Linked DNA regions of Homo sapiens: regions 1 and 3 are each linked to region 2. The links come from fine-mapping of genetic effects on gene expression. A gene starts in region 2. Each other region holds a variant in brackets. All regions are shown on one strand. Distances are between the middles of the regions.

Evidence for each region.
Region 1: its variant is fine-mapped to the expression of LILRB4 in whole blood (TOPMed, PIP 0.97).
Region 3: its variant is fine-mapped to the expression of LILRB4 in whole blood (INTERVAL, PIP above 0.99).

What each region holds. Positions count from the first base shown.
Region 1 is chr19:54,602,267-54,612,426 of GRCh38, forward strand. LILRA1 (leukocyte immunoglobulin like receptor A1) reads left to right here. Exons shown (of 10, transcript NM_006863.4): 10 at 1-115. Among named protein-coding and RNA genes, the nearest start is that of LILRA1, 14 kb to the left of the region's middle. The variant G/A (reference allele first, on the strand shown) is at 5,919.
Region 2 is chr19:54,657,629-54,667,788 of GRCh38, forward strand. It overlaps LILRB4 (leukocyte immunoglobulin like receptor B4), which reads left to right and starts at 5,357. Exons shown (of 12, transcript NM_001278426.4): 1 at 5,357-5,439; 2 at 5,904-5,939; 3 at 6,126-6,410; 4 at 6,558-6,857; 5 at 7,171-7,221; 6 at 7,502-7,552; 7 at 8,187-8,303; 8 at 8,612-8,687; 9 at 8,771-8,808; 10 at 9,069-9,121; 11 at 10,007-10,160. The coding sequence starts at 5,406.
Region 3 is chr19:54,543,399-54,553,558 of GRCh38, forward strand. It overlaps the pseudogene KIR3DX1. Among named protein-coding and RNA genes, the nearest start is that of LILRA2, 25 kb to the right of the region's middle. The variant A/T (reference allele first, on the strand shown) is at 4,570.

The DNA of each region.
Region 1 (10,160 bases), 55 kb before region 2:
CGCCATCTACCCTCTAGAATAGAGAAATCTTATCATTCATCATCTACCCTCCAGAATAAAGAAATGTTATCATTTGCCATCTACCCTCTAGAATAAAGAAATCTTATTAAGGACATTTTCAAAGCCTTAACAGAATATGAATGATTACAATATTATGTTTTACCTATACAGCATCTTCCAAGTTCTAGTTTGGTTGTGCCAGGCCAAACATTTGAGCCAGATTTCGGCAAGATCAAGCAGGAGACTCTGGCGTCTGTCGCTGATTACCTTCCCGCCATACCTGGCCACCAGCCTTTCCCATGGACCCCACGTGTGTCTCCAGACTCTTGGGTATGAATCCTGTGAACACACTGACCTCTGCTTTCTACATGACTGACAAGCACTATGAAATTTGCATAAATATGAATAGAAAATATACTGTCCCCACATCCCCTAAAATAAAACTGAGTCCTCACCCATGGGCTTTTGCTGGATTATACTAAGAAAAGGCAGGTCTTACAACACACATTCCATAGACTCACATCTCAGAGAAGATTCCTTCCACAGGCTCAGGGTCCTGAACACACTGCTCCACTCTCAGGGCTCGGAGACACTCTGCAGGTGGGTCTTCACCCCATCCGGGAGCCCTAATTCCTTCTTCCTCGGTTTTTCATACAGTGATTTTTCCCAGTACTGCTGTCTACTTTCCTCTGCCAGAAATTCCTTGCTGGATCCATGGCAATCTCCTCAGGACTCCTATTTCATAAAATGGAAATGGAATTCTTCATATGCCTTAAAAAGTAAAATAATTATCCAAACAATATAAAATACAAACACCCATCTAGCAAAATATTTCTTAGTACATCATGAATTCAAATATATATCGTACAAAATGACTGAGGATTTTATTAATTTTGAGCAATATTGAGGTTTTCTCATAATATCTTTTTATTGTTAACTTCAAACTAAATAACAATCATGTCTGGGAATAAAATGTATAAGATAGTCATTTAGAAAAATTTGGAGATTTTTCCTTCCTTGTCCAGTAAATACTTAACATTTTACGTGCAATGTATGTCATAAATATGGGCATTCCCCCCTTTGAGGTATGTGTTCATTAATATACACACATATATATACTCACACACACATATATACTGTACAGTGGCATCTACACATACTATATATCCACATATAATGTATTTGTATGCAATATGTAAATATATACACACATAACACCTAGAGTAAGTGTATGTATACAATATATCAGAATATATATGTGAATTCTTTTTCCATACAAACTGTGTAACATTTCTTTACACATCTACACACATATATACCGTGTGTGTATACATATAGTGCTTATGTACATAATAGGTAAATATATACACAAATTAACATATATATGTATACATACATAGAATTTGTTTTTCTATATACAAACCCTATAACATATGTAACTAGAGAGTTTTACCATATGTATGTAATTCAGATTGAACATTAAGTTGTATACTCATTCATTTTTTTTCTTAACCTCTCAGTTCTTGATAAATATTTCTTTGAATCACCAAATATATACAAATTTATGTTGTATATATTTCAATAACCCATGGTTAGATGAATGAAAGTTTACAATTATTTTATCATTTTTTATACCGTCTCTCTCTCTTTTTTTTTTTTTTAACACAGATGAGTCTCACTATGTTGCCCAGGCTGGTCTTGAACTCCTGGGCTCAAGTGATCTTCCCACCTCAGTCTCCCAAAGTGCTGGGTTACAGGTGTGAGCCACCGTACCCAGCACTTAATACCTTCATTAAAACATAAAACTTCACTATTTTCAAAAAAGTTTTGTATTATGTTACATTTTGTGGACTATTAATGTTTCTAATAGATAATTTTAACAGCATGTCTTTCTTCCCTTACTGATTTTAAATTATGATTTTATATTAGATGATACTATTGTGTCTCATGCCTAATGTGTTATTGGGGGTGTTGGGCTATTTAACTCATCCTGAGTAGGGGAATCACTCTTTAACATACGGGGTAAAAAATGAATAATTTAGAATAATTTCATGAATTTAGTTAAGTATTCGATTATATATTTTTGAATGAAGATTCATTTATCCTTGTCCTTTAGAAAAGACATGTACTCTTATATGTGTGTGTAGTTACATTCGTGTGTGTGCGTGCATGCAATTTTCAAATACTTGCCTGTTTCCCACTTTTCATCACCGGCATCTCACATCCTACATTTTGGATTCATTGATCTATCTGGATAACATCATTTAAAATTGCTTTCACTGAGTATGAAAACAGTAATATCTAGTAACTTGCAGCTCAGATAATGCTTTATTTTTCCTCCCACTTTCTCTATCAAAATAGATGAAAACATTTCTATATTAATTAAAGGGTAAGATATAACACCTGGAAGAGAAAGCACATCTGATGATTGAGGGATCCACCCTCCAATCCCTCCTCAGCCCTCATGCAGGGGAAGCCCAACCTAATGGGCTTCACAGGTCTGTCTTGCTCTGAGCCTTTTTCTGCTTAGGAATTGGTCCCCTGCTGACCCCTTTAACTTTTAGGTATTAACCTGAGTAAGCATAGAGTTCCTCACTTGCTGTTAATCCCTTGAGAGTACATTTTCAACATTTCCTTGCCTTTCATTTTTCTGTTGGGAAGTCCGATCCCAGTGATCATGCTATTCTACTGACATGTTGAGTTGAAAATCACAGGACACAAAAATGTGTTTTAAACTATACAATTTATGCTAGACAATTTCAGTCTAGCATATATACTTTTTAATCTACTTCTGGTATTTTTCAATTTATCATGGTAGGTCAAGGTTTACATTGCATGTTTAAATGTATGCATCTTAGCACTTAATTAGTCTTTCCTCGTCTCTGTCAAATGTTCAACTCTTTAATTCGTGAGCTGTTGCCAGACATTATTCTCCCTTCTTTCCTTCTGACACGTACAATAGATATGAGGTTCTCCCTCCTCACAATATTCCCCCAAATATGGTGAATTTTCACTTTTGGTGTCTCCATAGTGCATTCTGGAAAATTCTCCCAATTTTGTTTTCCAATTTAATAAATGTCTCTTTAGCTGTATCTTGACCTTGATAGAATAAATATTTTGAGTGTGCTTCTTCAACTGAATTTTTGCCTCTAGGATTTCTAACTCATTTCTCTGATGCTCATTTTTTGCCAGTATAATCCATATTCTTGTCTCAGAAATTTAATTTCCTCTTGTATTTTTTTCAGATATTTAAACATGTTTAATTGAAAAAGGGTCTTATGCGTTCCTAGTATTCTATTTCTTTGCACATAATAATCCTTATCAACAAATGTGTAGACTGATGATCATAGCACTTTTTATCATTAGAAGGATGGCTCTTGGTTGTCTATTTTTGTTGGACACTCACCTCCTACACTCCTGAGCTACCATGGAGGGATCCTCTCAAGGCAGTTTTTAGTAATCCAGGACTGAAAATGGGGGACTGTTCCAGCTACTGATGACACGTGGCATTCATTTCCCAAACATAGTGTCTGCTCAGGTTGCTCCCAGAAGGAAAAAAATGCATGTGAAATTCACACTCATGGCCGGGCACGGTGGCTTATGCTTGTAATCTCAGCACTTTGGGAGGTCGAAGTGGGCAGACCACTTGAGGCCAGGAGTTCAAGACCAGCCTGGCCAACATGACAAAACCCCGTCTCTACTAAAAATGCAAAAAAATTAGCCAGGCCTGGTAGTGGGCACCTGTAATCACAGCTACTCAGAAGGCTGAAGCAGGAGAATCACTTGGTCATGAGAATCAGGCAGGAGAATCACTTGGGAGGTGGAGGTTACAGTGAGTGGAGATCATGCCACTGCACTCTAGCCTGGGCAACAAGAGCAAAACTCCATCTCAAAAAAAAAAAAAAAACTCATACCCACACATGATACAGATACCCACATGTAAGAACTCTGCAGTGAATGAATTTGTTTCACACACACCCAGGGGAGTTGGCTCAGTGGTGGCCATGGGCCTGGGTCGGTAAATAGACATATTCCATCACAGCTTTCAGCCTTGCCCAGAGCCCTGGCCCTTCTCTGCCTGTGAGGACCCAGGGCCCCTTTTCTGTTCTGCACAGAAATGGAAACTTCCTCCCTAATGACCCCTAATGGCACCAGACACAGATGCCCTCTCTGTTTCGTGTGTATCCTTCTCCTTCTGATGAACTTTCATTTCTCATTTTCTGGACATGACTGTGATAACCGGGGTGTTGATGAAATATTATGAGAAGCATCTCTCAAGGGCAGGAACAAAGGGGCTCTCCTTAGTGGAAACATCAATCTCAGGCCTTGATGGTGGGCGCCAGCATCCCCTCATGCCCCCACCCCTCCTGTCTTCACCTGCTCTGGAAATTACCCATGGCTGAGCCCCCTGCAGCCCCCAGGCTCCAATGACCCAGCTCCCCTGTGATAAATGGGGTTCATGACAGGCTCCAAATGAGGAAACCAAGGCTCAGAGATGGGAGGTTACTGCCCAAGTTCACACAGGCAGGGGGTGACACAAGAATATTTAAATAAAGACAAGATTTCCCCTCAAAGCAGAGTGCTAACCCCACGTATTGTCCCAGAACCTTGAACTCAGGAGCACAGGATGGGAACAGGAGTGTTTGAAAGAAGACGGGGGCACCAAGAAGGCAGAGTCAGGTCAATGTTGTTTCCAGGGAGACGGGGGCGGATGCTGTTGCGATGAGTCAATGAGAAGTTCGTGAAGGGAACGTTTTTGCATAAAGAAAACCCACACTCCAGTTCTGGGGAAAGAGTCATGATTCCTTCCCTTGTCTCCCTGTATTTCCCCTTTCTGTTCATTGCCGCAATAAAGCTCAACTGGAACTGCAGAGCAAGATGTGAGATGAGTCTCTGCTGATGTGAGTCTGCCCCGCAGCCTGAATTTGCATCTTCCCTGAAGCTTCCCCAGGACTGGTGAGAAGACTGGCCATGGTAGTTTCCCCACAAGAGTGTGTTTATGGGTGAGCTGAAGGAGAGAGTGAAACCCCATGAGGAGGCTCTGAGAGGAAGGAAGAACCCTCCGTTGCCTTCACCTGGAAGGGATCAACTCAGGAAGGCACCACGTCCATTTGCAGCCACGTCCTGGCCCTTAATGAGAAGAGGACAGGACAGGCAGACAGTGAAAGGAGATGAGGAGAGACCCCATGTGTGTCTGAAATATCAACAGAAAGCCTGGTACCTGTCTCAGGCCAAGCACTAGGAAAACAAGAGCCAGGCTCGTGGCGGGGTCCGGGACAGTACACTACCCATGGAGATGCTGGTGGGAAAATCCTGTAAGGGAGAGAACCCTTCCTTTGTGTGTGTTCTGTGGACACCATGGTCTTATCCACCCACACAGCCGGGGCCAGTAGGAGGAAACATCATGACTCTCACCCACACGGCCATGGTCCACTTCACTGAGATTTGACAAGGGGAATGGGAGATTCTAGCATGAGAGGGACCCTGCCCCACAGGTAGGCCCTGGTCCAGTAGGAGACCCCAGGGGATTAGGGAAGATCTCAGGAAGGAGAGGACCTGCCCAGGCTTCAGGGGCAAATCTCTCAGCGGGAACTCTCTTCCAGGGCTGAGTCTGGGCCTCAGGACCTGCGTGCAGGCAGGTGAGTCTGTCCCCAGCTGTCCCAGGTCCCTCCTCCTCACCGGGGACAGGGTCCCACCCCCGGGCAGCTGGGGCTGGAGAACAGCAACTCTGGGCTGACTGAGAGGGATCATGGGGGGATCTTGGGCTGAAAGCTGGGATCTGAGGGGTGGTAAATGATATAGGACCCAGTTTCTGATTTCCTTCCAGGGACCCTCCCCAAACCCACGTTCAGGGCTGAACCAGACTCTGTAATAACCTAGGGGAGGCCCGTGGCCCTCTGGTGTCAGGAGACCCTAGA[G/A]GCTCAGGAGTGTGGTCTGGATAAAGAGGAAAGCCCAGTGTTCAGGAGCACACAGAGCTCGCCGAAGCCCAGGACAGCGTGAGTCCTCCGTCTCACTCAGGACAAAGCACCATGCAGGGGAATATTGCTGTGAGTATTTCAGTCCTGCTGGCAGGTGAGCACTCAGAGACCCCCTGCAGCTGGTGGTAACAGTGAGGGGACACTCAGGGGCCCCAGCCCCAGGCTCTGCCCTCAGGAAGGAGGTTTGCTCTTCGGGGCATCTTGCCTCTCAGAGCCCAGGCCTGGGGGATGATGTGGGAGGTGTGAGCCCCATTTAACACGGTGCCTCCTTCTCTCCTAGAATTCCACTAATAAAGGTCCTATTTGACAGTTCCAATATTGGAAATAAGAGTTCCATCTTCGGCCAGGCACAGTGGCTCACACCTGTAGTCCCAGTACTTTGGGAGGCCGAGGCAGGCAGATCACTTGAGGTCAGAAGTTCAAAAGCAGCCTGGCCAACATGACAATAACCCGTCTCTACTGAAAATACAAAAATTAACCTGGCGTGTGGTGTGCGCCTGTAATTCCAGCTACTGGGGAGGGTTCGCTTGAACCCACTTAGCACCTGGAAAGCGAGAGCACGGACTAGGCTGACCCAGCCCGCACCTGCCTCTGCCCATACCCCCACCCTGGTAGGTTAACACAAAGGACAAAGACTTTCGGGAGCTCAATGGCCTCGCCCTTTGCCTGAGACACCGGACAGCCTCCCTTGCGTAACATAAGGAAGGCAAAAAGCCCATGAAGACCAACACAGCAAAATTCATAATTGCAAAGATGTGGAGCGCTTTTGCAACCGCTGCCTCCGGGCTGGAGGCCGACTGACACCGTGCAGGACAGCATCCGCAGGCTCAATAACACAGCACCCAGGAAGGAGAACACGTGTGCATGTCCTCAGCTATCACCATTGCCAGCAACCCCCTGGATAACCAAGAGGTCCTGAGTCTGTTCACATGGCCGGTTCATTACCAAAGCTGGTGTTTGAGAAAGCCAAAACCCCAAGGCTATTTATAACCGAGGAAATCTCACATAGTGTATCTCACTCCTGCAAACTTCACCAGCCCGCCCCACTCCCTCGCCCCACCTCAGTGTCCCCGAGCCACTTTGCTTGCACTCGCTCGCCCACAGCCACTGCCGCCAGGGCTTTGCCAGCATTATGTGCTCCTGAGCAGACCTTCTCTCCCCTCCCCAACGGCATGTGTGTTGCACGTGCACCTCGCAGTGCCACAGCTGCCGGTGTGAGTTCACCCACTCACCCAACGACCCCCGAGCACTGGGACTGCTGTCAGAGCATTCGTGGGTACAGAGATTCCCTGTCCAGTACCCATCTGTCCTCCACCCTCCCGGCGCCAACACTACCACCGGTGTGATCACACACAGGGAGACCAGCGGATCCACCCCCACCGCAAACAGCAGCAGCCGCCAGCGTGGAAGTGCACACAGAGGGTGCACACAGTCCCATGAGGCCGGAGCCCCGCCACCTTGCTAACACCACTACCGGTGCAAATGCGCACACGAACGCCTGCGGGGCTCCCGCGCACCCCACCCAGTCTTGCTGACGCCACCGCATTGAACACCGACATGGAGGCCAGCACCCCTGCACCCACTAGCATCCCACTGCAGTCAACAAATGTGTACATCCCAGAGGAAAAGACATCATTACATCAGAAACACACTTGCATACAAATGTTGATTGCAGCAAAATTCATAATTGCAAAGATGTGGAATCGACGTAAGTGTCCATCAGCTGATGAGTGAATGTGGCACATATACACAAGAAAACACTATTCAGCCATTGAACAAAATGAAATAATGTCTTTTGCAGCAACTTGGATGAAGCTGGGGGCCATGACACTAAGTGAACTAACTCAGCAATGGAAAGCCAAATACCATATGCTCTCACTTTATAAGTGGGAGCCAAGTTATGGGTAATCAAAGACATGTAAAGGGGTGTAATGAACACTGGAGACCCAGAAGGGAGAGAGGGGGTGGAGAGTGAGTAATGAAATACTATGTACCAAGTACAATGTACACTACTTGGGTGATGGGTGTAGTAAAATCTCAGGCTTCACCACTATACAATTCATTCATACAACTAGAAACCACTTGTACCCCAAAAGCTATTGAAATAAAATACATTTTTAAAAAAACTGTAATACAAGGCTACAGTAACCAAAACATTATGGCACTGGTACAAAAACAGACACATAGACCAATGAAACAGAATAAAGCCACACACCTACAACCATCTGATATTTAACAAGGCCAACAAAAACAGGCCTATTCAAAAAATAATCCTGTGATAACTGGCTAGCCATATGCAAAAGAATGAAACTGGACAGACCCTACATATCACCATATACAAAAATTAAATCAAGACAGATTAAATACTTTAATGTAAGATTTAAACCTATAAGAATCCTAGAAGAAAACATGGTGAAACCCTGTCTCTAATAAAAATACAAAAAAGAAAAAAAAGTAGCCTGGCATGGTGACAGGTGCCTGTAATCCCAGCTACTTGGGAAGCTGAGGCAGGAGAATCGCTTGAACCTGGTGGGGAAAGGTTGCAGTGAGCCGAGATCACACCACTGCACTCCAGCCTCGGCAGCAGAGCCAGGCTCCATCTCAAAGAAAAAAAAATAGGAAACATCTTCCTTAATACAGGCATTGGCAAAGTATTTACAGCTAAGTCCTCAAAAGCAATTAAACGAAAGCAAAAATTGATGAGTGGGACCTAATAAACCTACAGATCCAGCAAAGGTCTAATATTCAGAATCTGTAAGCAACTTACACAAATCAACAAGCACAAAACAAACAGCCCCATTAAAAAGTGGGCAAAAGACGTGAACAGACACTTTTCTAAAGAAGACACACATATGTCCAAGAAGCATATCAAAAAATCTTCAATATGACTAATCAGTAGGGATATGCAAATTAAAACTACAATGAGATACCCACACCACTCAGAATAGTTATTATTAAAAAGTCAAAAAATAACAGATGCTGGTAAGGCTGCAAAGAAAATGGAACAAGTGTTGGTGAGAACGTAAATTAGTTCATCCACTGTGGACAGCAGTTGGGAGATTTCTCAAAGAACTAAGAGTTGAACTACAATTCGGCCTAGCAAACCCATTGGTAGGTATATGCCCAAAGGAAAATAAATTATTCTACCAAAAAGGCAGATGCACCTATATGTTCATTGCAGCACCATTCCCAATAACAAAGATGTGGAATAAACCCAGGTGTTCATCCAACAATGGATTGGATATATGGACCATAGAATACTACACAGCAATCAAAATGGAAATCATGTCCTTTGCAGCAGCATGGATGGAGCTAGAGGTCATTAGCCTAAGTGATGCCATGTGGAAACAGAAAGCCAAACATAGCACATTCTTGTAAGCAGGAGCTAAACACTGGGCACATGTGGACATAGATAAGTGTCTGTTCATGTCCTTTGCACACTTTCTAATGGGGCTGTTTGTTTGTTGCTTGCTGATTTGTGTAAGTTGCTTCTAGATTCTGAATATTAGGCCTTCACTGGATCTGTAGGTTAATGAGGTCCCACTCATCAGTTGTTATTTTTGTTTAATTGCGTTCAAGGACTTAGCTGTAAACGCTTTGTCAATGCCTATAACAACAGGATGTTTCCTGTGATTTTTTTTTTCTTTGAGACAGAGTCTGGCCCTGGCACCGGAGACACTTAGAGTGGGGAGAGAGGGAGGAGGGCAAGGGCTGAAAAAGTGCCTGTTGGGCGCTATGCTCACTACCTGGGTCTACGGATTCATTCGTTCTCCAAACCTCAGCATCACGCAATATACCTTTCTAGCAAACATGCGTTATGTGCCCCCGCATTCTAAAATAAAAGTTGAAAACAATAATAATAATATGGAACTAAAAATTAATAGGCATGCATCTTAGCAATATAAACTCAAGTACAAAATGGAAGAGGCCCACGTTTTAGAGATTTTGAAATTTAAAACACCTATAAATGTGATTGTATATATAGGCATGTAGGGACAACTGGGCTTCATCTGTAAGAACTACAGGTGGAAAGTGGAGACTCCTTACTGGCCTGAGAGCAAGGAGACAGCCCTGAGTCTTGGTGTCTGAGGAGAAGAAGTATGTGTTTCTGTTCGATTCTTGGTCAGAAAAAGGTGTTATAAAGAAGAATCTTGGTTCCCTGTCTCTTTTCTCATGCCAGAT
Region 2 (10,160 bases):
ACATGTTGGCCAGGCTGGTCTCAAACTCCTGACCTCGTGATCCGCCTGCCTCGGCCTCCCAAAGTGCTGAGATTACAGGCGTGAACCACTGTGCCCAGCCCAGCATGTTTTTATATGTTTCTTTGATAATAGACATTTTAACTGAAATAAGATGATACTCATTGTAGTTTCGATTTGATGCCAGTGATGATTGTGGGTTTTTGTTTGTTTGTTTGTGTTTTGAGATGAAGTCTCGCTCTGTCACCCAGATTGGAGTGCAGTAGTGTGATCTTGGCTCACTGCAACCTCTGCCTACTGGGTTCAAGTGAGCCTCCTGCCTCAGCCTCCTCAGTAGATGGGACTACAGGTGTATGCCACCACGCCCAGCTGTTTTTTTTTCTTTTTTTGTATTTTTGGTAGAGATGAGGTTTCACCATGTTGCCCAGGCTGGTCTCAAACTCCTGGGTTCAAGTGATCCACCTGCTTTGGCCTCCCAAAGTGCTGGGATTACAGGTGTGAGCCACCGCGCTTGGCCGATGATTAGTGTTTTATATAGCTGTTGGCCATCTGTACATTTTCTTTTGAGAAGCAACTATTCAGATGCTTTGCATACTTGTTAATGGAATTATCTGGGGATTTTTTGTTGAGGTGTGTTTCTTCTAGGCCTAATTTGTTGATAGTTTTAATGATGAAGGGATGTTGAATTTTGTCAAATGTTTTTTTAACATCTATTGTGATGATCATATAATTTTTTTTTTTTTTTTTAGACAGAGGGTCTCTCCTTCACCCAGGCAGGAGTGCAGTGGCGCGATCTTGGCTCACTGCAACTTCCACCTCCTGGGTTCAAGAGATTCTCCTGTCTCAGCCTCCCGAGTAGCTGGACTACCGGTGCACACCACCACACCCAGTTAATATTTTGCATTTTTGAGAGAGATGGGGTTTCATCATGTTGGCCAGGCTGATCTCGATCTCCTGACCTCAAGTGATCCACCCATCTCAATCTCCCAAAGTGCTGGGATTGCAGGCATGAACCACCGCGCCTGCCCATGATTATATGTTTTTTGTTCTTCCTTCTGTTGACATGAGATATCATATCTATTGATTTGAGAATGTTGAAATATCCTCCCTTCTGGCTGCTGTGTGGACTGCGAGCTCTCCTACCCTCCATGGTCTTCCAATCCCACTGTCCCCAGGCCAACTGCTCCCAGACTATGCAGTAGTCTCATGTGCATGGAGCAGTTGCAATTGATCCTGGTGGTGACAGAGGGGTTGGTGTTTCAGGCATGGCACAGTCAGAGGAGGTCCCAAGGAGAGACCAAGAGGTAAACTTAAGTAGAGCTGCACCCCTTCCTTGGCATCTGTAGAACCCTGGATAAAATCAAATACGCCAACCCAAATGCCCATCAATGATAGACTGGATAAAGAAAATGTGGCACATATACACCATGGAATACTATGCAGCCACAAAAAAGGATGAGTTCATGTCCTTTGCAGGGACACAGATGAAGCTGAAAACCATCATTCTCTGCAAACTAACACGAGAACAGAAAACCAAACATCACGTGTCCTCACTCATAGGTGGGAGTTGAGCAATGAGAACACATGGACACGAAGAGGGGAAAATCACACACCGGCACCTGTCACGGGCTGGGGGGCTGGGGGAGGGATAGCATTAGAAGAAATACCTAATATAGACAACAGGTTGATGGGTGCAGCAAAATACCATGGCACGTGTATACCTATGTAACAAACCTGCACGTTCTGCACATGTATCCCAGAACTTGAAGTATAATAATAAAAAAAAAGAAAACGAAACAATGAAACATGGGTTCTTATGAATCACAGAACACCCGTGACCCCAAGTTAAGATGGAAATTTATGATTCATTCCAACTAGGTCCTGTTTTCAGTATCTCACAAAAGCTTGACTCTAGAGTGAAATATACTTGGAAATGAATGAACGACTCTTGTGGTCTTTTTACTTCTTGTAAGGCTTTAGGATCCACCCGTTTGAATACCTATGACCAGGACCTCCTGCAATGCTTCTCTCTCCACCTCCAGGCATCCCTTCATTCAGATAATACCAATTCATCATCACCATCTGACCTCTCCTTCAGCTTCTTCACCACCCTCCATCTCAATTGCTTTCTGTTTTTCTTCTTTATTTTTTGAACTTCAACTTTTATTTTAGATACGAGGATACATGCTCAGGTTTGCTACATGGAACTATTGCACCCAGGTGGTGAGTGCAGGACCCAGTGGGTATTTCTTTTATCCTGTCCTATTGCGTTAAATCTTTCCTTCCCGGGACTGGTCCTATCTCTAAACTTTTTGCGTAGTGATTTTATCAACTTAATTTTTGCTAGGATGCTAGATTTTCTAGGAGGGGAGGTAATTTGAAATGAAGTCTGGGTTACTGTGAATCCAGTATATCTGCTTTGCTCGCCTTTATCTCTTGTGTCCTGGGATGGCCACAGGTTGACATGTTTAAATGTTTCTTAAGTGAGGATGGATAAGATTTACTGAGTGGTGAGTGCACGAATACAAAAGCAAAATGAGGCCGGGCGCGGTGGCTCACGCCTGTAATCCCAGCACTTTGGGAGGCCAAGGCGGGCAGATCACCTGAGGTCAGGAGTTCGAAACCAGCCTGGCCAACATGGTGAAACCCCATCTCTACTAAAAATACAAAAGTTAGCCGGGTGTGGTGGCAGCTGCCTGTAATCTCAGCTCTCAGCTACTCGGGAGGCTGAGTTAGGAGAATTGTTTGAACCCAGGAGGCCGAGGTTGCAGTAAGCCAAGATTGCACCACTGCACTCCAGCCTGGATGACAGAGTGTCACCCTGTCACAAAAAAAAAAAAAAAAAAGAAGCAAAATACAAGAAGTCCAGGACTGGTAAAGGCAAGGCATGTTGAGCGGTTAGAAAAGGGGTGATGACATCGAAAAACCTCCTGGCATTTCCCAGTCCTTGCCTAGCACAGGTTACTCTGAAAGCAGGACTTAAGACAAGGATATGAGCGCAGGTAACTGATTTGGGAACCAAGTTTAAGGGAATAGGGTTCCCTTATGAAAGAGAGAAGGAGAGGAATTCCTGAAATCAGCATGCATTGCGGACACCACTACAGCAGGTAATATGGACAGGTCCACACCAGGATCTCTGATAATGTGCAGACCATCATCCAGAACTTCCCGCCAAAACAGGAGATACTCGCCAATATGTGTATGGCTTTCTAGCCCCCATTTCTGGGAGTTTCTTTTTCCCCAGCCACTGTCAGACGCATCAAGCTTTGGCTGAAATAGCTTCCAATAAGGTCCTTACACACAAATGTGGAGAGACACATGGAAATCCTCGAAATGAGATACTGTCCCGTGATTCTGAGAGTGACCCAAAAGGATACGGAATGAGGTACTAAAAGCAGGTGCTTGGAAACCTGAGGGCAGTGGTGTTCATGCGTTTCCCGGCACTTTGACTTTCAGCCTCCTGCAAGCCTCTCCTTCTTTGCCTTCCTGACCGTTAGATACAATTAATTTGGGGTTTGTTTTTTCTGCTTCCTCTTTCCCCTCCCACCCTATGTTTCAGTTCTAAAGTTAGAAGGTCCTCTCATCCTTTTAAGAAGAACAGAGACAGAAAATGGTTAGTCACCATCTAGGACAGACTACAATTCCAGATCATTGCAGGACGTGCCCACTCAAATGGATGATTATTGAGAGCTGGCCACCTGAAGTGTTTTACACAGGCAGTGATCTAAGGGTTGAAGCTATCTGGCCTTTTTGCTTGCTTGTTATGTATTTATGGCTTTTTTCCTTTTCAAAATAATTTTACTAAATATTTAATTCACCAACTATATATATTTATGGGGTACAATGTGTTATAAATGTATACACTGTGGAATGATGGAATCAAGACAGTTAACATGTCCATCACTCCGCATACTAACATCTGTGAAAACATTTAAAATCTATGCTTGGCTGGGCGTGGTGGCTCATGCCTGTAACCCCAGCAACTTTGAGAGGCTGAGATGGGCGGATCACCAGAGGTCAGGAGTTCGAGACCGGCCTGGCCAACATGGTGAAACCCCATCTCTATTAAAAATACAAAAATTAGCTGTGAGTGGTGGCGGGTGCCTGTAATCCCAGCTACACAGGAGGCTAAAGCAGGAGAGTCTCCTGAACCCAGGAGGCGGAGGTTGCAGTGAGCTGAGATCACACCACAGCACTCTAGCCTGGGCGACAGAGTGAGACTGCATCTCAGAAAAGAAAAAATATATATATATATTTTGGAGCTACATCGTGCTAGCGCTGCAGAGAATGAGTTTTGTTTTGCGACACAGTTTTTAGATGTCTACCGGGCTCTGGTGGAGATGGAATGTTTGGCCTCAAGTGGGCAGGTCCCATGGGACATGAGTAGCCGACCATGACCTGGCTGCGTACTGGCCCACCAAGCATTCGACTGGCGTGCCCAGCCACTCTCCGTCATCGCAGAGAAGTGCTCTATGTGAGATTTGGTTAAAGGAGTCCCTGAAGGCCTGTGGGAGGCAGAATAGTGACCTCCCAGAGATGTCCACCTCCTGAGGCCCAGACCCTGTGAGTTGGGGAAGCTTATGTGGCAAAAGGGACTTTGCAGATGTGATTAAGTCAAGGATCTTGGGTTGGGGAGATTACCCAGGTGGGCCTGATGTAATCACAAGGGGCTGAGTAAGTGAAAGAGGAAGACAGGAGGGTCAGAGTGAGAGAAGGAGGTGAGTGCATGGAAGCAGGGGGCAGATAACGGGACTGGTGGCTTTGAGGTTGGAGGGAATGGAGAGGCAGGAATGCGGGAGCCTGCAGAGGCTTGAACAGGCGAGGGAACAGATTCTCCTTGGAGCCTCCAGGAGGACACGGCTCTGATAGCAGCTTCATTTTAGCCCAGGGAGACCCATTTTGGACTTGTGACCTCCGGGACGGTAAGTCAATAAACCTACATTATGTGAAGCCACTAAGCTTGTGGTGATTTGTTATGGCAGCAAAAGGAAGCTTTATGGTTCATCTGTACCCTGAAAATGCAGGTTTTTGGTTTTTTTTTTTTTTCACTTGTTCAATGATGTACCCCCAGTGTCAGGCGCTTTGCAAACACACGATACATACGGGTTGATGTTTGGTCAAGAGAGGAATTAAGACCAGGCAGACAGCAGGCTGGGATCAGAGAGACCCCATTTCTGTCTGAAATGTCTGCAGAGAACCTGGTGCCTGCCTCAGCCCTAGCTCTGGGGAAATGAAAGCCAGGCTGGGGTTCAAATGAGGGCAGTTTCCCTTCCTGTGGGCTGCTGATGGAACAACCCCATGACGAGAAGGACCCAGCCTCCAAGCGGCCACACCCTGTGTGTCTCTTTGTCCTGCCGGCACTGAGGACTCATCCATCTGCACAGCTGGGGCCCCTGGGAGGAGACGCCATGATCCCCACCTTCACGGCTCTGCTCTGCCTCGGTGAGATTTAAAGAGGGGGAGGGGAGACCCGAGTCTTGGAGGAAATTTGCCTCACAGCCAGGCCCTGGTTCTTTAGGAGACTCAAAAATCTCAGGGTAGCCGGGCGCGGTGGCTCACGCCTGTAATCCCAGCACTTTGGGAGGCCGAGGCGGGCGGATCACGAGGTCAGGAGATCGAGACCATCCTGGCTAACACGGTGAAACCCTGTCTCTACTAAAAATACAAAAAATTAGCCGGGGGTGGTTGCAGGCGCCTGTGGTCCCAGCCACTCGGGAGGCTGAGGCAGGAGAATGGCGTGAACCCGGGAGGCGGAGCTTGCAGTGAGCCAAGATCGCACCACCGCACTCCAGCCTGGGTGACAGCGAGACTCCGTCTCAAAAAAAAAAAAAAAAAAAAATCTCAGGGTAAAGAGAGGACCTGCTCAGGCTTCCGGGGCAAATCCCTCACAGGGAACTCTCTTCCAGGGCTGAGTCTGGGCCCCAGGACCCACATGCAGGCAGGTGAGTCTGTCCCCAGCTGTCCCAGGTCCCTCCTCCTCACTGGGACAAGGGGCCACCCATGGGCAGCTGGGGGAGGAGACAGCAGTTCTGGGTGACTGATGAGGATGACGGGGGGGTCCTGGGGCTGAGAGCTGGGATCTGAGGGCTGAGGAAGGTCTTGGGATCCAGCCTCTGATTTTCTTCCAGGGCCCCTCCCCAAACCCACCCTCTGGGCTGAGCCAGGCTCTGTGATCAGCTGGGGGAACTCTGTGACCATCTGGTGTCAGGGGACCCTGGAGGCTCGGGAGTACCGTCTGGATAAAGAGGAAAGCCCAGCACCCTGGGACAGACAGAACCCACTGGAGCCCAAGAACAAGGCCAGATTCTCCATCCCATCCATGACAGAGGACTATGCAGGGAGATACCGCTGTTACTATCGCAGCCCTGTAGGCTGGTCACAGCCCAGTGACCCCCTGGAGCTGGTGATGACAGGTGAGAGGACACTCAGGGGTCCCAGCCCCAGGCTCTGCCCTCAGGAAGGGGGTCAGCTCTCAGGGGCATCTCCCTCTCACAGCCCAGCCCTGGGGATGATGTGGGAGGTGGGAGCCCCATTTAACACGGTGCCTCCTTCTCTCCTAGGAGCCTACAGTAAACCCACCCTTTCAGCCCTGCCGAGTCCTCTTGTGACCTCAGGAAAGAGCGTGACCCTGCTGTGTCAGTCACGGAGCCCAATGGACACTTTTCTTCTGATCAAGGAGCGGGCAGCCCATCCCCTACTGCATCTGAGATCAGAGCACGGAGCTCAGCAGCACCAGGCTGAATTCCCCATGAGTCCTGTGACCTCAGTGCACGGGGGGACCTACAGGTGCTTCAGCTCACACGGCTTCTCCCACTACCTGCTGTCACACCCCAGTGACCCCCTGGAGCTCATAGTCTCAGGTGAGGCTCCTGACCCTGTCCTCTCTGAGCTCAGTGGCTCCGTTCATGCCCTGCTGCCAGGAGAGCTCTGGGCAGGGATGGAGGGAGAGGGGCTCAGCCAGTGGGGGACTCAGCCCTCAGAGGGGAGGAGGACAACAGGGGCCCTCCCAGGCATGCCCATGCTCTTCTCCCTCACCTAGGGTCCAGAAGGTGCCAGGTGGACAGAGAAATGGTCCTTGGGAAGCTGCAGGGCAGATATAGGGAGAGGTTCAATTTGATGTGGAGACCCAAGGGCAACCCCAGACTCTCACCCTCCTCTTGTCCTTCTACCCAGGATCCTTGGAGGGTCCCAGGCCCTCACCCACAAGGTCCGTCTCAACAGCTGGTGAGTCTCAGAGGCCTCTGTCCAGAGAGTTTCCAAAGCCCGAGGCCTGTCTCAAGACATGCTCAGTGGATCTAAGTCCTCGTTCCAATTCTCAGCTGGGCTTGCTTCCACGGGTGTGGGAGTCGGGCAGCGACTTGGGAGGCACCACAGGCTCCCAAGGCCCTGAGGCTGGGCTGGTGAGGGGTGAGGGGGTCAAGGCTGAAGGAGATGTTGCGGGGAGAAGCCGAGCTGATGTGGGGAGCAGGGCAGCCCCAGCCCTCACATCCCTGTTCTAACCCAGCAGGCCCTGAGGACCAGCCCCTCATGCCTACAGGGTCAGTCCCCCACAGTGGTGAGTGAGGGGCTCTGAGTGGGAGGTGGGCAGGGTCTAGGGGAGCCAAGGGTGGGTTCTGTCCTAGGTTAAGGCTCCTCTGGAGGTGGTGATGTGGACAGGCCCCTCCCCTGCATGGGCCTCAGTTTCTCCAAGTGTAAAGGAGAGAGGCCTGCGGGTGGGAAAGTTCCTTTCAGCTCTGACTCCCAGCTGTGCCCTCCTGGGAGAGGAGGCCTCCCAGGGAACCTCCCAGACCCGATTCCGCAGGGGCCTGTCCGGTCCCACCTGCAGCAGAGACGGTGACCTGGGGCAGGGGAGGGGAGCAGGGCGGTGGTTCAAGACAGTCAGGCTCTTTCCCTGCAACTCTGGGGCTTGGCTCTGGTGCAGGAACAAGGGCTGCAGCTCAGACTCCCGGGTTTCCTTCCCAGCTCTGCCGCTTCCTGGCTGGAGGGGTCTGGGGCAGGCGATTCCCCTCTCTGAGCCTCAGTTTGTGCATCTGTGAAATGGGTGGAGAGAGGGTGGCAATCTCAGGTTGCACAACTGCTGTGAGGGTTGGAGGTAATGAAAGAAAGACCCAGCACACACAGTAGGTGCACACACAGTAGGTGTGCACATCAATGACATCATCCCCATTCCTGATGTCATCACGCCCAAGGTCTGAGAAGGCACTGGGAGGTACTGATCGGGGTCTTGGTGGTCTCCATCCTGCTTCTCTCCCTCCTCCTCTTCCTCCTCCTCCAACACTGGCGTCAGGGAAAACACAGGACATTGGGTAAGTAGGAAATTGGGGGACCCGTGGGCTGATGGAGGGTGGGCTCAGGGCACCAGCCAAAGGGACTCCAGATAGGAGAGGTCATCTTAGAAACTCTGCTCCAGAAATTCCCAGTGAGAAAATCTAGAAAGAAGAAAATGAATGAGGGAGTAATGGAAGTGCTTTATTCTTTCGGTTTTTCTAAACTTAGAAAGTATTTAAAACATCCTTGCAAGTGTATTTTCAGGTTTCCTTTCCTCTTGACTTGCATGTGCAAGGCAGGTGGTTCTAACGTTCCCAGAGCTGAGACTCTGTCCATCTTCCCCCAGCCCAGAGACAGGCTGATTTCCAACGTCCTCCAGGGGCTGCCGAGCCAGAGCCCAAGGACGGGGGCCTACAGAGGAGGTAATTCTGCCCAAAGACCTCAGACTCCCACCCATCCCAACAGCCACCTCACTGTCCCCTTACACTCCCGTATCCTCCCCCAGGTCCAGCCCAGCTGCTGACGTCCAGGGAGAAAACTTCTGTGAGTGAGAGGCAGAGAAGGTGCACCTGGGGTGGAGCTGGGGGTCCCAAAATTTCAATAGCAATGGGGGCAGGAGCACAGGCTAGGATTGGTCAGGGACTCAGGGAGAAGTGGTCTGAACCCACATTGTGGGACCTCGGGGACATCACAGCCCCTCCCTGCGTTGCAGTGGCACTAATGGGAACAGGGCAGGGACCAGCAGGAATGAGAGGTCCCAGGGAACCTTCCCAGGAGATGAACCCCTTGCTCTACCCCAGCAGGTGCTGCCGTGAAGAACACACAGCCTGAGGACGGGGTGGAAATGGACACTCGGGTGAGAACCCGCCCCTGTCCCCGGCACCAAAGGCCTCCTGGTGCCAGATCTAATCCTGCAGGACTTCTCTGTCCTCCTTCCCCCGGCTCTCAGCATCGTCACGGTGGACCCCTCCTTGTCCAGCACGCTGCCTCCTGCCTGCTGGGACCTCACTCTCTCCTGCTGTCCTGGGACCTCATGGGCCTCCTCCCGGGTCCCCTTCCTGCTCCTCATCCTCTGTTTGGCCATCTGGTTGTTAGAGAGCTCCCCAGGCCTCAGGAGGATGACGAATAAATGAACCACTCCAGTCCCCTGGGCTCCCCTTCATTCATTCATCTAGTGAGTGTTCCCAGGGAGCTCACTGTGGATGGGGCTCCCCATGGGAGCTGCAGACACAGCAGGGAGCAAAGCCGCCCCCGCCTCCTGAGCTCACCTCGTGGTGGGAGACAAAATGCAAATAAATGCATCGTGTCCAGGAGTGCAACGTGCTGTAAGGAACATAAACCAGGTAAAGGGCAGAGAGTGTGGGGCAGTGGGGCCAGTCTGAATGGAAAGGGAGGGCTGTCTGCTCAGCTGTCATCTGAGAAGCCTGGACGGAGAGGGCCACGTGATCCTCTAATGGACGAGCCCCTGCAGGCAGAGGAAACAGCCGTGCAAAGGCCCCGAGGCAGCAGCGAGCTCTTGCAGGAAGGCCGCGTGAGGCTGCAGCCAAATGGGCAAGGTCAGAGTGAGGAGCAGAGACCAGAACCACAGGGAGGGAGCGGCCAGACCCTCCACGGCCTTAGGGCATCCCTGAGATTCCGTCAGGAAAGGGATGTAATCGGATCACCCTGGGAACAGTGGGGAAAATTGACTCCAGGGAGTCAGGAGGATTCAAGGACACCCCCCACCACTGTCTCTCTCCAGCAGAGCCCACACGATGAAGACCCCCAGGCAGTGACGTATGCCAAGGTGAAACACTCCAGACCTAGGAGAGAAATGGCCTCTCCTCCCTCCCCACTGTCTGGGGAATTCCTGGACACAAAGGACAGACAGGCAGAAGAGGACAGACAGATGGACA
Region 3 (10,160 bases), 110 kb before region 2:
CCCACGGAAGGCCAACGGACGGATGAAGAGGTGAGTTCTCCCAGCCGAAACCATCACCACAGCTTCATCCCCTCCCATTCCCAGTGCCCCTGCCTTCAGCCACTAAATATGCTCCTCTTTTCACCTTCATCCTCTCAGGAGCCTGCAGCAGAAGAGACACAGGAGATCATATATGCCCAGTTAAACCACCAGGCCCTCTCACAGACAGGATTCCCTCCTGCCTCCCAGTGTCCCCACTACCTCTCGGAGGATCCTAGTATCTACATCACTGTCCACCAAGCCCAGGCTGAGGCCAGAGCTGCCCCCAGTCTTTGGCACAAAGGGCATTAATACGCAAGGACCTGGATCTATTCCTAGGAGGATTTTTTTTCCACGGACATTCTTCCTCCTTCTGGTACCATCTTGACACCTCGAAGCTGGCAACAGCAGTGTCTGAATGCTTGTGGGATTATCTTAAAATTCCAGCACTGCTGAACAGACAACTAGCCATTCTACAATTCTATTTTGAGCATCCAACCATTTAAGGTGATTTGACTCTACCCACACACTCATCCTGGATATCTCATTAATATCATCTGAGTTATCCTGAAACTCTACAGACATGCTTCTGGAAAGCCGATGTATATGCTCAGCCAGTTTAATCTCTAAATTACTCAATAAGGTTTTTTTAAAAAAATTTTTTTAAAGTTCTGGGGTACATGCTCAGGATGTGCAGGTTTGTTACGTAGGTAAACGTGTGCCATGGTGGTTTGCTGCACCTATCAAACCGTCACCTAGGTATTAAGCCCAGCAGGCATTAGCTCTCTTCCCTAATGCTCTCCATACCCCCTGCCCTCCTCTGACAGGCCCCAGTGAATGTGTTCCCCTCCCTGTGTCCATGTGTTCTCATTGTTCAGCTCCCACTTATAAGTGAAAACATGCGGTGTCTGGTTTTCTGTTCCTGCATTAGTTTGCTGAGGATAATGTCTTCTAGCTTCATTCATGTCTCTGCAAATGATATGATCTCATTCCTTTTTATGACTGCGTAGTATTCCGTGGTGTATATGTACAACTTTATTTTTATCCAGTCTATCATTGATGGGCATTTGGGTTGATTCCACGTCTTTGCTGTTACTCAACAAAATTTTGCAGAGATGAAGTGTATTCTATATCTGAGTCATCTAATATGGTAGCCACTAGCCAAATATGGCTTTTTAACTTAGAATTAGAATAGATCAAATTCCATGAAGTTTAAAATTCAGTTCCTCAGCCACATGGCCACAATTTGAGTTCTCAGAGCCACGTGTGGCTGCTGGCTGTGGGAGAGAATAGCATGAACACAAAATGTTTTCCTTGTCAGAGGAAGTTCTAGCTGTTCTAGATTAAAGGTGCAAATTTGAAGATGCAGAGCCTATTTTCTCATGCAGTGCAGGCTCCTGGAAGAGACCTAATGTAACAAAACGATAATATTTCACATCAATGGTGACATGTCTTTATCTTACGAAATGCGGGGAACAAGCAGAGTTCTCTTGTGGAGTGTCTTATCACCTCTTATCCTCATGCAAATTTCTGCCATAGAGATTTTCTCCCAAACTTTGAGAAGGTCACCTCTGTCAGGCCTCTGAGCCCAAGCTAAGCCATCCTATCCCCTGTGACCTGCACGTACACATCCAGATGGCCTGAAGCAACTGAAGATTCACAAAAGAAGTGAAAATAGCCTTAACTGATGACATTCCACCACTGTGACTTGTTCCCGCCCCACTAACTGATACCATATATTCTGCCCCGCCCAAGAAGGTACTTTGTAATATTCCTCGCCCCCTTACCCCCCACCGCCCTGCCCCCGCTCGCCCGCCTTAAGAAGGTACTTTGTAATATTCTCCCCCACAACTTTAGAAGGTACTTTGTAATATTCTCCCCAACTTTAGAAGGTACTTTGTAATATTCTCCCCCACAACTTTAGAAGGTACTTTGTAATATTCTCCCCTCCCCTTAAGAAGGTACTTTGTAATATTCTCCCCCACAACTTTAGAAGGTACTTTGTAATATTCTCCCCTCCCCTTAAGAAGGTACTTCGAGGCTGGGTGCGGTGGCTCATGTCTGTAATCCCAGCACTCTGGGGGGCCGAGGTGGGTGGATCACGAGGTCAGGAGATCGAGACCATCCTGGCTAATGTGGTGAAACCCCGTCTCTACTAAAAAAATACAAAACAATTAGCTGGGCATGGTGGCGGGTGCCTGTAGTCCCAGCCACTTGGGAGTCTGAGGCAGGAGAATGGCGTGAACCCAGGAGGCAGAGCTTGCAGTGAGCTGAGATCGCGCCACTGCACTCCAGCCTGGGCGATAGAGCAAGACTCTGTCTCAAAAAAAAAAAAAAAAAAAAAAAAAAAAAGAAGGTACTTTGTAATATTTCTCCCCACTGCCACCCACCCCCCGCCAAGAAGGTACTTTGTAATATCCTCCCCCCAACGCCAGCCCCCTCCACGACCTTAAGAAGGTACTTTGTAATATTCTCCGCGCCCTTGAGAATGTACTTTGTACGCCCATCTCAAACCTATAAGAACTTATGATAATCCCACCACCCTTTGCTGACTCTCTTTTCAGACTCAGCCCACCTGCACCCAGGTGAAATAAACAGCCTTGTTGCTCACACAAAGCCTGTTTGGTGGTCTCTTCACACAGACGCTCATGACAACCTCCTATTTGTACCTTTTCTCGTCCCCTGGTTTCACATGGAGAGAAAGCACACATCCATTCTCCGCACAGAACATGCTCTGGAAGCTGCTTTCTGATGACGTCTTCCTCTGAGCCTTTATTCTGTTTCTTTCTACTTGAATTGGCACCTACCCAGAGCAATTCACAAACTGCTGCCTGCAACGAGCTGTCACTGGCTCATGGAATTGTCACATGCTGTTTCTTCACCTGGTAATTATCTCCCTTTTTTGAGCATCTCAGTGCAGACATCCACCTTCATACACATGTCTTTATCTCATAGGCTAAGTGAGGAGGTTGATTGACTCACAGTGTCTGTGCCCAATAGGCTGAGTTTTTATGGCCTGATCCCCACTGGTCTTTCATGTGTGGACTGTGAGTTTTTTTTGTTGTTGTCGTTGCCAGGCTGGAGTGCAGTGGTGTGACCTCAGCTCACTGCAATCTCTGCCTCCCAGGTTCAAGAGATTCTCTTGCCTCAGCCTCCCGAGTAGCTGGGACTACAGGTGCGTGCCACCACGCACCGCTAATTTTTGCATTTTTAGGAGAGACGGGGTTCCACCATGTTGGCCAGGATGGGACTATGAGATTTTTGAGGCAGGACTGAGTCTGATTAACCTCTGGGACTCAATGCAACCCTCCAAGGATCCTGCCCATAGGAGGAGGTATCAGCAACTCAGGTCTGGTAAGTGATGAGGACACCCAACCCTTCCAGGGAGCAGAGCGTGGAGCAAACATCAGAGATCCTCTGATGTTACCCAGAAGTAGTTTCTCTGTCTCCCTGGGCCAAAGGGAGGATCATGCTTCCTCTACAGTCTGGGATATGTGAGCTAAGAGACAAATGCTGGTTAGTGGATGTGAGGGTGAATGGCAGGCACACTCCCAGCCTGGCTATTTGCATGACGGCCCTACCCTTACTATTGTATATTCTACAGCTAGGTTGGTCCTGCAGCAATCTCGTTTTGATAAGCAGGGTAAAAGTGAAAGACCAAAACGTGTCTTCTCTCTGAGCCTCTGCACACAGGGTGGTTATGCCGCAGAGTCAACTGATGCTAAAGGGAAACTATGCAAGCCAGAAATGATTTTAATTTTGCTTCCACACCATCCTCTCAAAAATAACAGAAAGTGAGCATTTTTTTTTTTTCTGGAGTCTCTCTCTGTCACCCAGGCTGGAGTACAGTGACATGAGCTCAGCTCACTGCAGCCTCCACCTCCCGGGTTCAAGCGATTCTCCTGCCTCAGCCTCTGGAGTAACTGAGATTACAGGCACCCACCACCACACCTGGCTACTTTTTGTATTTTTAGTAGAGACAGGGTTTCACCATGTTGGTCAGGCTGGTCTCAAACTCCTGACCTTGTGATCTGCCTGCCTCGGCCTCCCAAAGTGCTGGGATTACAGGCATGAGCCACTGCACCTGGCCAAAAGTGAGCATTTTAAAAAGTGATTTACAACCAATGATAAATGTGACCTGATAAGATAATTCAAGTATTCCATGTTCCTACACTTCATAGTTAAGTGTAGCTTCAACATTTATCTGGTGGAAAAATGAATCAACCAACTTTCCACACATGAGTGTTTTACTCTTCATTTTCCTTTCTATCAAGAAACATTATGTGCCCTGAGAAATTATAAATTTCATAATTATTTGGGACGAAAATTGTTTGCACTTTTTTTGTGGGGCGGGGGGATGGAGTTTCGCTCTTGTCACCCAGGCTGGAGTGCAATGGTGCGATCTCAGCTCACTGCAAACTCCACCTCCTGGGTTCAAGTGATTCTCCTGCCTCAGTCTCCTGAGTCTATGGGATTACTCATATGTAATCCCATATATGAGTGATATGGGTGCGTATCAGTATGCCCAGCTAATTTTTGTATTTTTAGTAG[A/T]TATGGGGTTTCACACTGTTGGCCAGGCTGGTCTCGAACTCCTGACCTCGTGATTTGCCCGCCTCGGCCTCCCAAAGTGCTGGGATTACAGGCGTGAGCCACCGTGCCCGGCCTGTTTGCACTTACTCTCCTGGTTTGTCCATTTTTCCATGTTCCTTCATACTTTCTTTTGATTTTATTTTTACTGTATTTACTTTTAGTTTTTGAATACTTCAAATTCTTGACAATCATTTGACAGGTTTAAATTTGAGATAACCAAAAAGTTAATAGTTCTCTCAAAACTCTCACGTTGTACTCTTATTTACTTATTTTACTTTAAGTTCTGGGATATATGTGCAGAACGTGCAGGTTTGTTACATAGGTATACATGTGCCATGGTGGTTTGCTGCACCTATCAACCTGTTATCTAGGTTTAAGCCCCGCATTAGGTATTTGTCCTAATGTTCTCCCTCCCCTTCCCCTACCCCCAGACAGGCCCTGGTGTGTGTTGTTCCCTTCCCTGTGTCCATGTGTTCTCATTGTTCAACTCCCACTGATGAGTGAGAACATGTGGTGTTTGGTTTTCTGTCCCTGTGTTAGTTTGCTGAGAATGATGGCTTCCAGCTTCAATTTTAACTTTTTTTTTTTTTTTTTTTTTTTTTTTTTTTTTGAGACAGAGTCTTACTCTGTTGCCAGGCTGGAGTGCAGTGGCCCAATCTCAGCTCACTGCAACCTCCACCCCCTGGGTTCAGGCAATTCTCCTGCGTCAGCCTCCTGAGTATCTGGGATTACAGGCACCTGCCACCACACCCGGCTAATTTTTGTATTTTTTTTTTAGTAGAGACGGGGTTTCACCATGTTGGCCAGGCTGGTCTTGAACACCTGACCTTATGATCCACCCGCCTCGGCCTCCCGAAATGCTGGGATTCCAGGCGTGAGCCACCGAGCCCGGCCCAGTCTTAACATTTTTTAAGGCTTAGTCACCTGCATGATACCAACCAGGCTGGTCTCAACTGTGGGGCAACTGGGGTTGTTGAACCACGTGAACTGCAGGTGCTCCCTGCAGAACCCTTGCATAGCCGGCGTCTTTATACCTGTCTGTCCATCCAGGGATGGCGGGGTTGGTGTTTGTCCTCCAGTCGAGGGCACTGACAACCTTGGGGCAGCAGCACCAATCAGCTTCCATCCCATCACGTAAGAGCCACACGTGGAGATCTGGGTGCACACGCATCTCACGTGTTTCCCGGAACAGCCTCAGCGCCTTTCCCCGAGCAGCCCCTTGGACATTCACCTGGCAGAGGAGTCTCTGGTTCTGTTTCTGGACTGTGGACGCGGGCTAGGGCGCATGCTGCAGGTGAATCACTTCTGAGGACAGATGAGTCTCCTGTTCTGCTTCGGGTCACCACGCTGCTCTGTGATCCAGGGAGTCTCTGTCAGCGTCTCTTCTGCTGGATCCAGTCTGGAGTGTCAGGGATTCAGAGCACGACAGAGGTGACCATGGGCAACGTGCACCCGAGCACTTCCCTGCCACAGGGACATGCAGAGCATTTCCCACCCTGAGGAGCGGCCACTCAAGACCATCAGGTCGCAGGTGGAGGACTGTGATGCAGCCGAGCTCCTATCACCACCAGGACTTGTCTCACTGAGCAGAAGCCGGTAACACACCAGGGAAGACGGCCTTGCCCACGGGGTGGCTGTTGACGGAATCTTTCTGTTCTGCGTTCTCTCATCATGGATGTGGGTCCCTTTGATGCCTCTGTCTTCGCTCAGGGCCCCAGGAAGATTCATTCCCCCTAGACTCTCTGCTTCCTGGGAAATGATTACATTCTGAGCTTTGGCGAATTCCCGCAGCACCGCTCCTTGGCTCCCTCACTGCTACCTGGACAGGCAGAAACATTAACATCCCCGGCCAGCACCTAGGCCCCGAAGTGAGGGGATACATGAGCCGTGTGCAGGCTTCCAGTCCCTGGAATGTGTGTAGGGGGTTCACTGTCCACCACAGCTTAAACACAAAATGAACATTTTGACTGGAAAAGGGTAGATAGAAAGAAAAAGACCTAAATGTGGAGCGTAGTCTGGAGCCTTCTATGGGGCAGAACAGCACTCGTGTGCAATAATGCTGCAGTGAGCCACAGCCTCGCCTCTCAGCTGCACAGGACAGATGTGCAGTGGAACGGGAAGTCAGAATGACCATCCCTGCGGCCGTTATGAGGAGCTGTTCCCTAGGTCTCTACAATGAAAGCTCCTGAAAACAGTCAATGTAGATTTGCACGCTGAGAACAGCACCTCCATTCCCAGCTACCCAGAGCCAGGTCCTAATTCTTGCTTATCCACCAACTCAGTAAATATAAGTCACGAAGGTTGCTTTTATTTTATGTTGAACTTTTTGTAGTTTACTAGCTTGCATTATTTTTTTTAAAAAAGAAAACGAGTTGATATTTTTAACTTTTAAAAATATCATGATGATGGCCGGGAGTGGTGGCTCACGCCTGTAATCCCAGCACTTTGGGAGGCCAAGGTGGGCAGATCATGAGATTAGGAGATTGAGACCATCCTGGCTAACACAGTGAAACCCCGTCTCTACTAAAAATACAAAAAAATTAGCCGGGCATGGTGGTGGGCACCTGTAGCCCCAGCAACCCGGGAGGCCGAGGCAGAAGAATGGCGTGAACCTGGAAGGCAGAGCTTGCAGTGAGCCGAGATCACGCCACTGCACTCCAGCCTGGGTGACAGAGCGAGACTCCGTCTCAAAAAAAAAAAAAAAAAAAAAAAAAAAAAAAAATATATATATATATATAAAATCATGATTTCTCCATTTTTTTCCTTTCCCATTCTCTGACTTAGAATATTTGAGCAACAAAACCATAATTTCCGGTGCAAGAATGACGAAGTTCCTAATTTGAGTCTGCTTAGATACCTGAGCTTAGTCTCAGGCCCACCATGCGCTGTGAACTCATCCCAGGTTACATGATGTGCCTCTTGGCAACTCTGAGTGATGCTAAGTTTCAGGGAAGTGTGCACAGATCTAGGACTTCAGTAATGTTTAATCATCAGAGGCAAATTTGGGAACTTTTTATTTGTTTGTTTGTTTTTTGAGACGGAGTCTCGCTCTGTCGCCCAGGCTGGAGTGCAGTGGCGTGATCTGGGCTTACTGCAAGCTCCGCCTCCCGGGTTCACACCATTCTCCCGCCTCAGCCTCCCGAGTAGCTGGGACTACAGGCGCCCGCCACCACGCCCGGCTAATTTTTTGTATTTTTTTAGTAGAGATGGGGTTTCACCGTGTTAGCCAAGATGGTCTCAATCTCCTGACCTCATGATCCGCCCGCCTCGGCCTCCCAAAGTGCTGGGATCACAGGCGTGAGCCACCAGATTTGGGAACATTTTGTAATGGCAGTGTGTCCTCAAATACCTTGCTTACAGTGAGTTATATTTTTAGAAATTACAGTGCCCATTACACACACACAGCTGTTCCTTCTCTGTACTCACGGGAAACCCACAGAGACCCCTCCACAAACACCTCCGTATCTGCATGAAAGTGTAAAACCACATGAAAGCCGAGCTTGCTATTTACTAGTTGTGCATAGGGTTGTTTGTGTGCATGTGTGTGTGTGTGTGTGTCTTCTAGATACAGTCAGGTTCAACGGCATTATGCTAAATACTTGCCGCTCTAATGAATAATCATCCTCTTGGGGTTTCTCCAGGTCATTTGAATATGGAGACCCACTTCTCCAGTATCTCTCCTAAGAATAACCTTTCAACAGGTTCTTAACATCGTCAGCAAAAATATTTTCAACAAATGTTCCCAAAAGCACCTTAGACTCTGAAGACCTAAAAAAGATATAATACATTCTTTCAGAGCTGTTGGGGAGATCCTCAGCAAACCTACATTATACCATAAACGGTCTCAAAAATAGCTCATTTTCCCATAAGCCATGAGAGATAATGAGATGGGAAGTCCGGAGGAGGGTCTGAGGTGTCTGTGAGGAGCCGCCTCCTCCAGTTTCAGGTCATTGTTCCCTCCATGTGTGTCTAGGAAGCCCTCCCTCCTGACCCCCAAGGACCCTGCGTGGACTGACCCTCCAGTGCAGCTCTGATGTCGGCTACCACAGATTCGCTGTGTACTAGGAGGGGGCACGTGACTTCCTCCAGCGCCCTGGCCAGCAGCCCGAGGCTGGGCTCTCCCAGGCCAACTTCCCCCTGGGCCCTGTGAGCCGCTCCCAAGGGGGCCAATACAGATGCTACGTATGGTGCACACAACCTCTCCTCCGAGTGCTCGGCCCCCAGGGACCCCCTGGACATCCTGATCGCAGGTTGGAGCCCAGTGGGTTCAGACAAGTTCCAAAATTCTGTGCAGAGCTGCGTGTGCGTTTGTAGGGGTGTTTCTGTGTGTGCTTGTGTGTGTGTGTTTGTATGTGTTTGGGTGTGTATATGTATGCATGTTTGTATTTTTGTGTCTGTGTATATTTGTGTGTTTTTGTCTGTACGTGTTTGAATTTGTGTGTTTTTGTTTCTCTCTCTGTAGTTGCATTTGCATGCATCTGTGTGTATGTGGGGAGGTGTGTGTGTGTGTGTAGGTGTGTGTGTGTGAGTTTGAGTGTGTTTCTGTGTGGGTTTATTTGTATGTGTATGAGTGTGTGTGAGTATATGTATGTGTGTGTGTGTTGTGTGTGCGTGTGTGTATGTGAGTGTGTGAGATTGTATGTGTGTGCATGTTGTGTGTGTCTGAGATTGTGTGTGCGTGTGTGCATGTGAGATTGTATGAGTGTTTGCATGGTGTGTGTGCGTGTGTGTGTGAGATTGTGTGTGAGTGCGCATGTGTGTATGTGAGTGTGTGAGATTGTATGTGTGTGCATGTTGTGTGTGTGTATGTGAGTGTGTGTGAGATTGTATGAGTGTGCGTGTGTGTGTGCATGCATGTGTGTAGACGGCATAGCACAGATGGTCACGAGGTGCGCCTGGTTCTTCCGCCATGTCACCGTGTTGTTGGGGAAACGCTGAGTTGAGGGCTCTCCGACAGCCAGGAGCAGCATCTGAGATTCTGTAAAACCCTGCCCACCCGCTCTCTGCACAGGGCCAGGCAGCCTGGGCTGTGGCAGGGCCAAGACTCTTGGATACACCCCCAGACTGCCTGGAAAAATGATGTCCACTGGCGGGAAGAGACAGACAAGGCTGACTCCGCCTCATCCTGGGTGCTAGTGACGTAGCGCCCTGCAGCTTTAGCCTTTTAAAGGACATTCTGGTCCTGTGGAGGACGGGACGGCCCTACGCAGGACCACGGACCCTCTGCTGTCCCCTCACCGCAGACCTGCACCCTGTCCCTCAGAGTCAGGACGTGGGTGGGCGGGCATCTCTCAGTAGAGCCTGAGCTGCGGACGTGGACACAGCAGAGTCAGGAGCATCATCAAACTGACGACCAGAATGAGTGACCGAGGCAAAAGTCTCAATCAATGGAGGATTATTATTGTTATTGTTATTATTATTATTATTATTAGAGACGGAGTTTTGCTGTTGTTGCCCAGGCTGGAGTGTAACAGCACGATCTCAGCTCACTGCAACCTCCGCCTCCCGGGTTCAAGCGATTCTCCTGCCTCAGCCTCCCGGGTAGCTGGGAT